Regions from separate parts of the Homo sapiens genome. Here region 2 is linked to region 1. The links come from fine-mapping of genetic effects on gene expression. A gene starts in region 1. The other region holds a variant in brackets. All regions are shown on one strand. Distances are from middle to middle.

What was found. PIP is the estimated chance that this variant, and not a neighbour inherited with it, causes the effect. A credible set is the group of variants that fine-mapping cannot tell apart.
Region 2: its variant is the best candidate, but not a certain one, in a credible set for the expression of SLC38A10 in whole blood (TOPMed, PIP 0.70).

What each region holds. Positions count from the first base shown.
Region 1 is chr17:81,293,684-81,296,580 of GRCh38, forward strand. It overlaps SLC38A10 (solute carrier family 38 member 10), which reads right to left and starts at 1,624. Exons shown (of 16, transcript NM_001037984.3): 1 at 1,140-1,624. The coding sequence starts at 1,238. RefSeq lists silencers at 1,100-1,169, 1,270-1,539 and an enhancer at 2,200-2,289.
Region 2 is chr17:81,247,010-81,249,906 of GRCh38, forward strand. SLC38A10 (solute carrier family 38 member 10) reads right to left here. Exons shown (of 16, transcript NM_001037984.3): 15 at 1-52. Among named protein-coding and RNA genes, the nearest start is that of NDUFAF8, 9.1 kb to the left of the region's middle. The variant A/G (reference allele first, on the strand shown) is at 1,522.

The DNA.
Region 1 (2,897 bases):
GCTGAAAAAATTTTTTGGATATTTTTATTCCAAAGATAATGAATATGAAAAACACAGTGTTTGCTAAGCTAATCTAAAATTAAACTACTGGTGCCACTTTGTTTCAAAATATACATGTTGTTTTCATTTTTCTACCTACTTGGTAACGTTTCAGTCAGCCTTTCTTTTCCAAAGCACTAAATGCTTGTTTATTGTAGATTAAACAGATGACACTTAGAAATGGCCATTTTCTTTCATGTGTTATTCAATGCTGGAATGACGCTAAACTTTTTGTATTTGAGATTTTTTCCAACTGTGGTAACGTCTGCACACATTAGATCAAATGTGCAGTTTTTTGTTTTTGTTTTTGAGACGGAGTCTCCCTCTGTCGCCCAGGCTGGAGTGCAATGGCGTGATCTCGGCTCACTGCAACCTTCGGCTCATTGAAACCTTCGCCTCCCAGGTTCAAGCTATTCTCCTGTCTCAGCCTCCCAAGTATCTGGGATTACAGGCATGTGCCACCACCCCCGGCTAATTTTTGTATTTTCAGTAGAGATGGGGTTTCAGCATGTTGGTCAGGCAGTTCTCGAACTCCTGACCTCAGGTGATCCACTCGCCTCGGCCTCCCAAAGTGCTGGGATTACAGGTGTGAGCCACCACCCCCTGCCAAATGTGCGGTTTTTGTGAAACGCAGATCTTAGGTGTATAACCTGGTGGATGTTTTTAATCACCTTGCAACCAAGGTCCCTATCTAGTGTCGAAGCCTGGGAGTGGTGAGTTGTGTGCTTCTGAAGACAGGTGCAGTTGGGTCAGAGTTTTTAAAAACACGATAAAATGTAAAAATACGGAGTCCCACCGTTCCCTTCCGATTCTGGAGGATCATTTTGCTTTGTTACACTTTGCTTCGGTATCGAGTTTTTGAGTGTGGGGAACTTTCCGGCCCGGGCTGACAAGGGCTGCCAGGGCCAACGCCGTGCGCTTCTCATCCACGGATTCTCTACGGGAACTGCGCCGGGACCCAGAGGGTCGCCCCGCCCGCGGCCGCCTGCACCCGCCCAGCGAAGCCCTGCCCCGGCGGGAACTTTAACCAGGACGACCCAGCCAGACGCCCCCTCTGCGGGGGAGGCGAGGGCGGTGATCTCCGGGCCCACCGGACTCACCTGTTTGAAGCAGAAGGGCATGGTGAGGACACTGACCCCTACGATGCTGTTCACGATGTTCGTGATCAGCCCCCAGTTGGAGGCGGCGGCCGCGGTCATAGTGAGAGGTCTAGGGGCCCGGGGCGAGAGGCCTCGGGGGTCGCCGGGCTGCGGCCGGCTTTGGAAGCCCAGCCCGAGGCCACGGTCACAGGTCCCAACGTCCGGGACGCCGGTGGGGAGGGGATGGGCAGCCTGAACACGGGAGCCTGAGCAGGCGCGGGCGCGGGCCCCAGAGGCTGCCTGGAGGAGGCAGCCTCGAAGGCCGGCTGCGGGGGCGAGGTCAACCTCCGGACCCCGCCAAGCCCTGCGGCCGCCTCAGGGCCATGCGTCCCTCGCTCGGCCTCGCGGGCCGCCTGTGAATCTCCGAGCCCAGACCCGGAAGAGCCGCAGAGCCAGCTAGGGACACCTCAGCCCAACTCAGCTGCCGCCGCGGCGCTCACACTTCCGCCTTCCACGGGCTCCGTTGCCCGGAAGTGACGGCCAGGGGGTAGGGTTTGGTGGGACGCGAGCCAATGAGAGGCGGGCCCGGAGGGGCGGGCGGAAACTGGGCCGGTGGGCACCTGAGGGTCTCGCAGCTGTCCGGTTCGCCAAGCTGGTCCAGCCGACCTGTGCCCGGGGCCCCAGTTCAACGAGCTGGAGGACAAGGGACTCGCCCCGCGAGGCCTCGGTTTGGATGGGCAGTCGCGGGCTGGAGAGAAGGGGAGGCGCTGTGCCTTCCGGGGAGGAGCGGGTTTAAGGGTTCCTTTTTGACCTTTATTCCCAGGACCGATTCTGGGGCGAGTGCTTGGCGCCAGGGCACGGGGGCGGGGGCCCTGACTGCCTCAGCCGAAAAATAGTCTGTTGTGAGGAATTAGCACCTAGGAGGTAGGAATGAAACGCTGGGCACAGAGAGGCTCGGCCACTCCGCTAAGGCCACACAGCTCCAAGGGGAGGCGGTGCCCTGCCGAACTGCGCCCAGATCAGTGGCAATGTTGAACTTCACCTTTTCACACGAAAAGAGCAAGGGACATTCCTGGAGGGGACAGGAGAGGTGGAGGCTTACATGAACAGGGAAACCCGGGAGGGCTTCCAGAAGGAGGTGGCTTCTAGGCTGGAGCTTGAAGGACAAATGAGAATTCCTCGGGTAGAAATGGAGACCGGGGAGAGGAGAGAACAGAGAAGGGTCCCGATAGATCTGTGGATTCCTGGCACCTAGCTGCTCACTCTGAGTCTAATGAATGAGCGCGTAGACCGAATGGCTGGGAAGCAGCAAGTGATTCCAGGCTGCTGGGGGAGGACGGCGGAGGAAAGGAGGCCGTGTCTGCAGCACCTGCAGGACCAGGTGTCTTAGAACAGAGGCCCGTTCCTCAGGCACTGGCAGTGCAGCCACCAAGTAAGGCTGTGCCCCACCTTCAGGAGAACAGGAGGAAATGCCTGGGTAAAGACTAATTAAATACGCAGGCAAAATAACAAATGCCTGCGTTCTTTTTTTTTTTTTTCTTCAGTCAGAGTCTTGCTCTGTCGCCCAGGCTGTATATGCAGTGGTGTGATCTTGGCTCACTGCAACCTCCACCTCCCAGGTTCAAGCTATTCTCATGCCTCAGCCTCCCAAGTAGCTGGAATTACAGGCTCCCGCCACCACACCCGGCTAATTTTTGTATTTTTAGTAGAGACCAGGTTTCACCATGGTGGCCAGGCTTGCCTCAAACTCCCGACCTCAGGTGATCCGCCCACCTCGGC
Region 2 (2,897 bases), 47 kb before region 1:
TTGATCACCTGAAGCAGGACGGCGTGGTCCAGCATCTCCGCCCTGCCAGCTTCTGGGTTTGGAAAGCACACAGTCAGAGTGCCCGGGCTGCTCATGCACCGTGCTGGGCCAGGGACGGCGCGGCCCACAGCAAGGCAACGCACAGGTCACCTGCAGGGAGTGTGCCCGAACACTGGCCACTGGTGACACCCATCATGACTGTGACCGTGAAGCCCGGACAGCTCAGTGATGCACGCAGGCCTGAGGGCCCGGGAGAGGCTGCGCCCTGACTGCCCCTGGAAGCCCACCCGGGATGGCCTCTCCCGCACAGCCAGCCACTGTGCCGCATCAGTTCTCCCACTGGCTGTGCCCCAGGCGCACCCGGCAGGACCCCAGCAAGCCTGCTCGTTGCCCATGGAAGTGAGTGTCCAGAGCAACAGTCAAAAGGAATGTGCCAGAATGTCAGAGATGGTTATCTGGGCTGGGTGGGGTTTTGTTTTTGTTTTTTCCACTTTACACATTCAGTTGTTCTAGGACAAGCACGTAAGAAAATAAGCCTGGGCACGGCGGCTCACGCCTGTAATCCCAGCAATTTGGGAGGCGGAGGCAGGCAGATCGCTTGAGCCCAGGAGTTAGAGACCAGCCTGGGAAACATAGCAAGACCCCCATCTCCACAAAAACAAAAAAAACAAAAAAATAAAAATGATCAGGGTATGGTGAGAGGCGTCTGTACTCCCAGCTACTCGGGGGGCAGAGGCCAGAGGATCATTTGAGCCCAGGAGGTCGAGGCTGCAGTGAGCCGTGATCACACCACTGCACTCCAGCCTGGGCAACAGAGCAAGACCCTGTCTCAAAAAAGAAAAAAAGAAAAGAAAAACTGTAAGCTATGTTTTGAAAAGAATATTGGTACTTCTAGAAAGTTTCCTCCGAGATGAGAATTTTAAAAACAAACAAAAGCTGTCTTTTTTTTTTTTTTTTTTTTTTTTGAGACGGGAGTCTCACTCTGTCACCCAGGCTGGAGTGCAGTGGCGCGATCTCAGCTCACTGCAAGCTCCGCCTCCCGGGTTCACGCCATTCTTCTGCCTCAGCCTCCCGAGTAGCTGGGACTACAGACGCCCGCCACCGCGCCCGGCTAATGTTTTGTATTTTTAGTAGAGATGGGGTTTCACCGTGTTAGCCAGGATGGTCTTGATCTCCTGACCTCGTGATTCGCACACCTCAGCCTCGCAAAGTGCTGGGATTACAGGCATGAGCCACCGCACCCGGCCAAAAGCTGTCTTCTAAGGGGAGCATGGGAGCTGGAGCGTCAGTGAGGCCCCCGCCAGCCATCCTAACCACCGCTCCTGAACACCATCCACTGTGGAAATTCTGGGCAGGTCCTGCGTGATGGGGAGCCCCAGTGCACCCCGTGTTAAGAGCTGGTGCCTGCAGCAAGGGCCAGAGGACAGGCCTGCCCGGGTTACGGCTGGCACACACTTGGTGCAGGAGCACCCGGTCTGACTCGCTTCAACACTGGCCAGTTATTTGCCGCAAGCGGCTGTG[A/G]CTTATGTCATTTTTACAAGATGTTTTCAAATTATTATAGGAAGCTTTGAAAAATGATGGGTTAGGGCTGTGAGGCATAAAAGTTCAATCCAGGAGCGAGAAGGATGTTTTGTGAGTGGTGAGAGCAAATATCTCAGGGACGGCCCTGCATGCCAGGCATAGACTGACGTGCCGGCCCAGCCTCCCCAGTGGTGACACCATGACCAGCCAGAGAAGTGCAGGGTCAGCATTCTCCCAGGAACGCAGCCCTGGGCCTCGCCCAGACCCCTGGATGTGGGGGACAGGGCTGGCTCCAAGGAGATCAGGGCCATGGGGCCGGCCCTCAAGCAGCAGCCCCTGCTCCCTGCTAGCACCCCGGGCCAGACGCCTGCCTGCAGGGAAAGGCCATGACGGGCAGAGCAGGTCTCCCGCACACCTCCTTTCACAGGAGGAAGTGCAGGTGGCAGACCAGCCACCTCGGCCGTGGGCCACGTGCTCGCCCTGGGTGCTGCGGGGCTCAACCACGGAATGTCAATGGTACAAGGACGAGATCCCATGTGCTGGTGACACCTCCCCATACTCCAGGGCAGGGTTCCGAAAGAGCAGGCACCATGGCCTCACTTGCTCCTCAAAGGACTAGCCCTGGGCCTGGTGCTGGGAAGAGGAGGAAAGAGGAGACAGAAGGGAGGAGGGGGAGGGGGAGGAGGGAGGGAGAAAGAGGAGGAGGGAGAAGGAAGGTGGGGGAAGAGGAGGAGGGAGGAGGAGGAAGGAGGGAAGAGGAGGAAGGAGGGAAGAGGAGGAAGGAGGGAAGAGGAGGAAGGAGGGAAGAGGAGGAAGGAGGGAAGAGGAGGAGGAGGGAGGGAAGAGGAGCAGGAGGGAGGGAAGAGGAGGATGAAGGAGGGAGGGAAGAGGAGGGAGAAGGAGGGAGGGAGAAGGAGGGAGGGAAGAGGAGGGAGGAGGGAAGAGGAGGGAGGAGAGAAGAGGAGGGAGAAGGAGGGAGGAGGGAAGAGGAGGGAGGAAGGAAGAGGAAGAGGAGGAAAAAAGAGGGGGAGGGGGGAAGGAGCCATGCCACGTCCAGCCAGAAGCCACGTGGGACACATGTGAAGCACCGTGGAGGAGACAGGCTGTTCCTACAGCCAGAGCCCACCAAGACCACGGGGACTGGGCTGCAGAAGGCACGAAGCCACCCACCTGTTGAGACCCATGCAGATCTGTCAAGGTGGCCCATGAGGCAGCAGTGCAGGCAGCGTCCCCCCTTGGCTGGTGCCCTAAGCAGCCTGCACTCAGACGCTTGCAGAGACCAGCTGCCCTCTGATGACAGGCAAGGCCACAGCAGGGCTGAGAAGGACCACGGCATTTGTAACACAAGGGAGCAGAGTGGGCATCGGGACCCTGCC